Regions from separate parts of the Homo sapiens genome. Here region 1 is linked to region 2. The links come from fine-mapping of genetic effects on gene expression. A gene starts in region 2. The other region holds a variant in brackets. All regions are shown on one strand. Distances are from middle to middle.

What was found. PIP is the estimated chance that this variant, and not a neighbour inherited with it, causes the effect.
Region 1: its variant is the best candidate, but not a certain one, in a credible set for the expression of P3H1 in whole blood (TOPMed, PIP 0.52).

Annotation. Positions count from the first base shown.
Region 1 is chr1:42,796,421-42,800,809 of GRCh38, forward strand. TMEM269 (transmembrane protein 269) reads left to right here. Exons shown (of 6, transcript NM_001354602.2): 6 at 1,678-4,389. The coding sequence ends at 1,805. Among named protein-coding and RNA genes, the nearest start is that of TMEM269, 14 kb to the left of the region's middle. The variant G/C (reference allele first, on the strand shown) is at 2,147.
Region 2 is chr1:42,765,416-42,769,804 of GRCh38, forward strand. It overlaps P3H1 (prolyl 3-hydroxylase 1), which reads right to left and starts at 1,613. Exons shown (of 15, transcript NM_022356.4): 1 at 1,092-1,613. The coding sequence starts at 1,556. C1orf50 (chromosome 1 open reading frame 50) reads left to right here and starts at 1,834. Exons shown (of 5, transcript NM_024097.4): 1 at 1,834-1,975; 2 at 2,094-2,209. The coding sequence starts at 1,897. RefSeq lists an enhancer at 872-991 and silencers at 1,252-1,361, 1,982-2,121.

The DNA.
Region 1 (4,389 bases), 31 kb after region 2:
CCTCTTATTTGGAGTGCAGCCAGTCACCTTCTTAGACTGAGGTCCCTTCTACCCCACAGAGCTTCGTACGTCTGAGAACTGGCCTGTGACCAGCACTCTGAAACCTTATATGAAATACTTTTTTTTTTTTTTTTTACAGGGAGTAGCCGAAAATCATACATACATGGTAGAGAGGGGTCTCACTCTTTTGTCCAGGCTGATCTCAAATTCATGGATTCAAGCAATCCTCCTGCCTTGGCCTCCCAAAGTACTGTGATTACAGGCATGAGCCAACGCGCCAGCCATGTACTTTCCAAGACAACTCTGGTTTTCAGTATTGTCTTTTTGCCTCAACAGATCAATGACTATTCTTGAAATACAGTATTCCAAAATGCCCATGCATATCCTTAACTGCTTATTACTCCTAGAAGTGGTCTTCTATCAGATCATATGTTCTGATTTCTCTTACAGGATACATGGTGATCATTCCCATGGAAATACCATTGGCTCATACTCTCTTTGTCCTCTTTTTGAGCTCCCTGAGGCAGTGTGTCTAGTTTTTAAGAGTCAAGCAGAAGTGGGTTTGAATCAGGACCTCGTACAGGTTACTTCTGTTTCTTCTTATGAAAAACAGACTTAGTTCTAAACCACGGGATTATTGTGAAGTGTAAATGAAAAAAATGTACACATCTAGCAGAATGTCTAGTGCAAAATAGATATTCCACAAACGTGAGTGCTCTTTTGCCTTTTGGTGGCGAATCTGAGATGCAAATTGTGTTGGGAGTCCCCAAGACCACCCCTGAGAAGACTCACAGGACTCAGCTTGTTGTACTCATGGCTAAGATTGATTTCAGCAAAAGGATGTAAAGCAAAATCAGCAAAGGGAAAAGGTGCATGGGAAAAAGTTCAGGGGAAACCAGGTGCAAGCTTCAGAGAGTCCTCTCCCAGTAGAGTCACACGAGATGCACTTAATTCCTCAGCACTGAATTGTGATAATACAATAAAGTGTTGGCTACCAGGGAAACTGATGAGAGACTCAGTGCCCAAGTTTTACTGGGGGATGGTCATGTCAGCACCCTGTGCCTACCATGTACCAAAATTCCAGATTCCCAGAAGGAAACCAGGTGTTACCACCGTGCTTATATGGACAGTCTAGGAACAGTGAGACACTCTTATCAGTTGGGGAAAGTTTTATGTTGGTCTAGGGAACTGTTTACTATTCAAGTTTCCAGCCATCAGCCAAGGGCCAGCCTTGCAAGAAGGCCTTTCTGAGGATAGCAGTCTCAGGCCTGCACGTAAACTCTTTTCTGCATACATATCATACTGCATTGGTCGTTATCACATGTTAAATTTAAAACAATGAGGAAGATTTTTTTTTCCTAACAAGGGTTTTTGGTTTTTGTCTTGGTTTGTTTTGTTTTCCCTAACAAAGGCAATTCAGATTTATTATTGGCTGGAACTTCTGATGTGAATTTGACACAGTGGAACCTGAGACTGCATTGGGCTATACTTCTCTAGTTACTTACCTATCTCTATTAAACTGAACTTGAAGACAGGGCTCCTGTCTCTTTCTGTTTGTTTCTTAGGCACTGTGGGTGAAAAGTAAAGAATGGGAGGGTGGGGACGGGAGAGTAGAGGGTAGAAAGCATAGAAGACAGCTTCCTAGAAATTGAGTGTCTGCACTTTTTGTTCTTCCAGGTGTCATCATGCTGTTTTTCTCCCCATTGTCTCTGTCTGCTTTTTACTGCCTGATGTGGTCGCTCTCGTACATCTTCTTTCCAGATGCTCTGTGGGGCAAGGCAGCCTGTCTTTCGCCACAGCACTGAGGAAGCTAAGCAGCTCTACCAGCTCCTGCCGGCCTCTGTGGGGTTTGTGTCAGCATATTGGGTCAAGCCTGCACTAAAGCTTTGTATGTACCTGTGTTGCCATATACTAGATATATGGTATGTCTGTTGCCATGAAGTTAGAAACCCAAAGCAGGGTCAGTGAACTTCACTTCTTTGTCTTTATTCAGGGTTCTGACTCCCTTGCGGACAATACTTGTTTATGTCATGTAGAGCAGAATATCCCCCCGCCTCAAGCTCAATGTGGGCTGGGTTTGGGTTCCAGCTCCATTACCAGCCGGGTGACTGTGTGCTACTAAGGTCCATCCCTTGGAAAGGAGTGA[G/C]AGCCTTCAGAACTGGTATTGGCCTCAGCCTCAGCCCTGCCTGGTGGGGCTTCCTGAAGCATTTCTTACTCTTGCAGACTCTGGCTCTGAGAGTAGAGCCAATCACAGGACTCTCTTGTTGCCTAGTTTGAATGTGTGTAGGATTTTGTAACTTCAACATTCTGGGTTTTTTTTTTTTTTTTTTTTTTTTTTTTGAGAAGGAGTCTCGCTCTTTCACCCAGGCTGGAGTGCAGTGGAGCGATCTCGGCTCACTGCAGGCTCCGCCCCCCGGGATTCACGCCATTCTCCTGCCTCAGCCTCCCGCGTAGCTGGGACTACAGGCTCCCGCCACCTCGCCCGGCTAATTTTTTGTATTTTTAGTAGAGACGGGGGTTTCACCGTGTTAGCCAGGATGGTCTCGATCTCCTGACCTCGTGATCCGCCCGCCTCGGCCTCCCAAAGTGCTGGGATTACAAGCGTGAGCCACCGCGCCCGGCCTACATTCTGTATTTTAATAGTTCAAAGCTGCCGCCTTTTGCTTTGTTTAGCAGTTAGATACATTGGTGACACAGGGCATCATCTGGCTTGCAGGATCTCGTGTGGATTTTCTTTCCTACGCTGGAAACTACTAAACTCTAGCTATTCAGATGCCACTTCATATTCTAAAATCCAAATCAAATAGAAATAAACAGTACTGTATGGCAAAGGTGTACCTCACCGAGAACTCAGGTCCACTGAGCCCCCAGCGTAGATAGACATTCCACCTCCCAGATGGTGGAAAAAAGGATTGATGGCTGGTTCTGCTCCACCCTCAGAGACTGTGCCAGAACACCTTCTACCCTGGATATAACTTTTTTAAGTTTCCAGAACAATGTATGTGGTAAATATACATCTATTCTCAAATTAGATGTTTAAAAATAAAAACCCAAAGTAAGATTTGACTGTAACAGAATAGACGGTGCCTTCCTGTTAAATCATTCATATGTTCCTAGTTAGATGGATTTGCCTGTGTCCCAGGACTTTATATCTCCTTCAGTTTAAGTTTTGTATTTTTGCTATCTGCCATAGTGCCTGACACTCAGAAATGTTCCCTTTGTATATGAATTGATTTAGTTGTGGATTCTAGTAAGTTACATACAAGGTTTCTATAATGTGGTAAGAATTTTACAAATATACACGAGCTTAGACATTTCAATACAATGTCCTTCAATGCTGTACATCCATTTCAATGTGATGCTCCCCTTAATCAAAGCATTTTAGGAACTCCAATCTGAAAATGGTCTTCACATAAATTCTTAAGGACCAAGCAGCTGGAACAACACCACCACCACCAAAAGCGAAAAACAGGTTTTATTCTGAACTAAATTTTTTCCAAAAACCTAACATTTGAGATTAGCCAATTATGTCGTATTCTTAAATCAAATTAGGTATCATATTTGGACTCAAATGCCTTGTGGCTGTTTCTAAAATTTGAAACTATGTTGAAAGGAAAAAGATGCAATTCTGAAAGAGAATTTCCATGTCCATTTTAAGTGACAGCAGCAGAGAGAAATATACAGACCCCCAGGAGGACAGCTTTGAAAAGTAAAATGCCCATTTGGATGTGTAAATTATCGCTTGATTGTAATGGCAATAATTCATACTTAATTGCCTCCAGTTTTTTTTGTAGGTTAATGACACTAGGATAGTTATAGGTCAGCTGACAGCCGGTTAACAGAGGGATCTATGCTTCCTTGCACCTCTCTGAGAGTATGGTTATACTTCTATACGGGCTTGAGGGTCTCAGATACTAAGGCTACTCATTCAATGCCTTCACTTCCTCAGACAGTGGTTTTCTAAAATAGAATGTCTCTTCTTGGGCTTCCTCTTAGGAACAAGGGAGAAGGCCAAGACTTTAAAATCTGCACTTCTCAAATGCATACATGAAGCCAGTGGGGTTTAGGCAGTTCTCTTTGTCCTAAGCTTGAGAGAGAGTGTAGATTTCCCTCCTGGTCAACTTCTAGTCCCTTCTTCCTAACCTGAAGTCCTACTTCTGTGTCTGATAAGCGGAATCAAGTGACTGAGAATTCTGCTACTCTTTTAGCCCTGTGACCTTGAATAAAACGTTTAATCTCTCTAAGCCTATTTTCCTATCTGTAAAATGGAGGATTTACTTCCTTTCAGGGTTGTTTTGTGGATTGAACAACCGTGATGTTTTATGTGGATGAATGTAAAACACCTAGAATAATGAATGGCACGTAAAATATGTTAAATAAATGTTAGAT
Region 2 (4,389 bases):
AAAGCAAGACAAAGCAAAGACGTTAGTCGAGCATTTAATTACTTGTACAAGAACTGGAATGCAGTAGGTATGCAATACATGTTTGTCAAATAGTTTTAGAAAGTGCTATGATGAAGCGACATAACCAAAGACATAACGCAATTATTTTGATTTCAAGTCCAGCGCTCTTCCGAGTAACTAGGAAAAATGAGGGGAACTGTGTAGGCAGAATGCTGTGGAGGGGTGGAAATCTGAGGTCCCCAAGAGTCTCTAAGTGTCTCTTTAGATCGAATCGAAGGTCTTTTAAACAACAGATATACCAGATATAATGCACAACTCTTTCTCCCCCCACCCCCAATACAGTGGGACTAATAACAGCATCTACCTGACAAGATATTATGAAGATTAGGGCAAATGCGTTAATAAATGCAAACTGCTTAAAATAGTGCCTGGAAGTATGTGCTGGCTATCATCATCATCATCATCGTCACCATCACCACCACCAAACAAGCCTGGAACGCTCCAAGCCCAAGTGTACACTTGGACACATGGCACTCTGGCATTCCGAAAAATACTCATTTTCTTTGTAAACCTGGCAGACTAGCCAGAGGGTCCCCCCCCCGCCCCCACACACACACAGAAAGGGCCAGGCAGCCCCTGCTGGCGACGTGGCAACCTCACATCCTGAAAGAGAGCTGCTGAATCAAACAGCAGGAAAAGCACCACTGGAAAACCAACCGGAAGGGAGATATTGTAGACCGCTACTAGCTTCTCACTCGGACACTTACAATGACATCAGAATGGGAGACCCAAACTGCCGCTTTAATTCCTTCCAGGAGATTTCCCAGGGAACAAAATGGCCATGAGTTTTGCTTGGCCTGTGCCCTAACCCCAGGCTGGACCTTTGGGGTTAGCATCTGCCCATGCGAACTGGGCGAGGAAGGTCTCCTGCCAGGGAGCAGCTCTCCCCGGCTCCGAGGAGAGCTCCCCAGCCAGGAGGCCACTTTCCCCTCCCTGCGGACACTTCCCCGATCCCCCAAGCTCCTCAGGTCCCCTGCAACACTCCTCTCCCCAGAAGGACCCCGGCCGCCTGGTTCCAGGCAGGTCTGCACCTTGAAGTAGGCGACCTGCAGGTAGTTGTAGGGGCTCCGCTTGCGGAACTCCAGCTCCATCTCTTCGCTGAGCGAGTGGGCGGCCGGCGGCCCGAGGCAGCGGCGCAGGCAGGCAGCGCGACGCAGAAGGCCCCCGAAGAAGCTCAGGTCGCGCAGGGCGGCGGCGCCCGAGGCCTGGGCCGGGCTGGGGGACCAGTCGGGGTCCAGCTCCCACGGGAAGTCGGCGGCACACTGGGTGCGGCAGCGCAGGCGAAGGGCGCGGAGGGCTGCCCGGGAGCGCAGCGCCCGTTCCATGCTCAGGACCACCCCGGGCCAGTCCCCGCGCGCGTAGGCTGCGGTCCCCTCGGCGAAGAGCAGATCAGGCGTCACCATGCCCCATCCTGCCTCGGACTCGACCTCGGCTTGGGAGGCAGCGGCCACGACAGCCAGCAGTGTGGTCAGCAGCTTCAACGCGCGTACCGCCATCGCTCCCTCAGACCTAACGGAACCGCCAGCCACCCGCCACCAAGGCCGGAGTCCTACCCCCGGCGAAGGCCCGCCCCCGGGCGAAGCCCCACCTTCCAAGCCGGGCGGCGCATGCCCACGAGGCTTGCACCGCCTCTTTTCCTTTCAGTCAGCCCGGATCCCCCCACCGGCCCTCAGCGAATCCCGGCGCGTCAGCCGGAGCCCCGCCTCCGAGCTCAGGCCTTGCTCAGTCGAACTGACGCCCAGTAGACAAGAAAGACGGAAGCTCCGCCCACGCGCCTTTATGCGCAGGCTCTTCCTACTCGCACAGCCCAGGGAGTGGGGAGGATAAGGCGCTGTCATGGAGGACGCCGCCGCGCCGGGGCGGACCGAGGGGGTCCTTGAAAGGCAAGGAGCGCCGCCAGCTGCAGGCCAGGGAGGTATGCGGGGCGGGAGTCAGCAGGGGGAAGTCAGCTCCCGCGAGGCAGCCGGTCTCGGGGCTCCGCGGGAGGCCGACGGCGGGAGCTCACGGCTTGTGTTCCTGGGTGTGTGTCGCAGGAGCCCTGGTGGAGCTCACCCCGACCCCCGGCGGCCTGGCCCTGGTGAGCCCCTACCACACCCACCGGGCCGGGGACCCCTTAGACCTCGTGGCGCTCGCAGAGCAGGTGCAGAAGGTGAGGAGGCGCGGCCGGGGCAGCGAATAACCATCTTCGTTCACGTTGTACTCTGCGTCTTTCGGCTCAGACCTCACTACCACCTATGGTGGGGGTGGCATTTGCTCTTGTCTCCATTTTACAGACGAGTAAAGCCGACTGTCATTGTGAGTCGGTGGCCTGATTCGAATGACCTTCTGGGACCAAAGGTTCCTCTAACTGCAACTTGAGTGCCCATAATCTTCCTTCGTGGGAAGGTTTACACAACACTTTAGTGTTCATTATTTCATTTGCACCTTAGGACAGCCTTGTGAGGTAGGCAGTACAGAGTTATTCTTCCCATTTGACACAAAGAAAAGTTCTTCGGGAAGTTTCAAGGTCCGCTTATTTTAAGCTGCTTCCCATAAGATCTTTGTTACCTGAGAGTTTAAACATCTTCTAGCAGGGCAAGGACTCCAAGTTTAGTCCTCATTAAACACAGTATTCCCAAGCCCAGTGTTTATATATGGATGGCCAAAATAAGTCAAATAAGGAGGAAATGTGAAATAATGGAAAAAACACTGGAAGTTTGGACACATGAGTATTAATCCCACTTTTGATACTAACTTGCAGTGCGACTTAAGGCAGATTACTTCTCTCTGGACCTCAACTATTTTATCTGTGAAGTGAAAGGTTTGAAGTAGTAGAGCTCCAAGATCTAAAGTTTTGTCATTATTCAATGAAAAACCAGATTCCTTCTTATCTCTTATCAAGACTTCCAGTTGTACACCCTCTTCAGTGTCCACAGATGGAGGGTCCTGCTGTTTTAAAGATTATCATGGCCCCTTATCCCTGTATACACTATCAGATTTGGCCTTGATTATGTTCCAGGGTCTTTGCTTTGCCCAAAATTATTTAATGTGCTCAAATTCCCTCACATCTCTTTTTTTTTCAATGATCCTAGAAATCCTTCGAATCCTTTTTTTTTTAAAATTAAGAAAAATTCAGATACGCAGAAAGCTCCTTTAATTCAAAACTTGGCTTTCTTCTTTTTGAAGAGCTGGGGAGCAAAGTGCAACTTTTATTTATTAAGAGAATATGCATCTAGTTAATCAGATTACTCTTATTGGGAGGGAGGTTGGCAGGGACAGAATCTTGTGCACACAACGTATTCATGTGCTATTGAATGACTATCGTGTTTATTACGATGGCCTGAACAGATGGAAGAAAGAACACAGTTTTTGTCTTTCATCCTATAATCTTATGAAATACAGAGGATGCATTATTATGCTGCCTCTGTTTCCCCAATACAATCTGTATTTGAGAAGCTGAAGAAAAAAAAAACTTTAGAGACAAACAAATTGAATCAAACATATTAACTATCTAAAATGTACTTTTTGGCCAGGTGCCGTGGCTCACACTTGTAATCCCAGCACTTTGGGAGGCCAAGGTGGGTGGATCATTTGAAGTCAGGAGTTCGAGACCAGTCTGGCCAACATGGTGAAACCCCGTCTCTACTAAAAGGTGTGGTGACTCATGCCTGTAGTCTCAGCTACTCGGGAGGCTGAGGCATGAGAATCGCTTGAGCCCAGGAGACAGAGGTTGCAGTGAGCCGAGATCGCACCACTGTACTCCAGAATTGGTGACAGAGTGAGACTCTTAAAAAAAAACAAAAAAATGAGGCTGGGTGTGGTGGCTCACGCCTGTAATCTTAGCACTTTGGGAGGCTAAGGCGGGAGGATTGCCTGAGCTCAGGAGTTGGAGACCAACCTGGGCGACATGTGAAACCCTGTCTCTACTAAAATACAAAAAATTAGCCGGGCATGGTGGTGTGTGCCTGTAGTCCGAAGCTACTCTGGAGGCTGAGGCGGGAGAACTGCTTGAACCTGGGAGGCAGAGGTTGCAGTGAGCTGAGATCACACCACTGCACTCCAGCCTGGGTGACAGAGCAAGTCTAAAAAGAAAAAAAAATGGTGGTGGGCTGGGTGCAGTGGCTCACGCTTGTAATCCGAGCACTTTGGGAGGCCAAGGCGGGTGGATCACGAGATCAGGAATTCAAGACCAGCCTGGCCAACATAGTGAAACCCTGTCTCTACTAAAAATACAAAAAATTAGCCGGGCATGGTGGCAGACGCCCGTAATTCCAGCTACTCATGAGGCTGAGGCCGGAGAATCACTTGAACCTGGGAGGCAGATGTTGCAGTGAGTGGAGATTGTGCCAC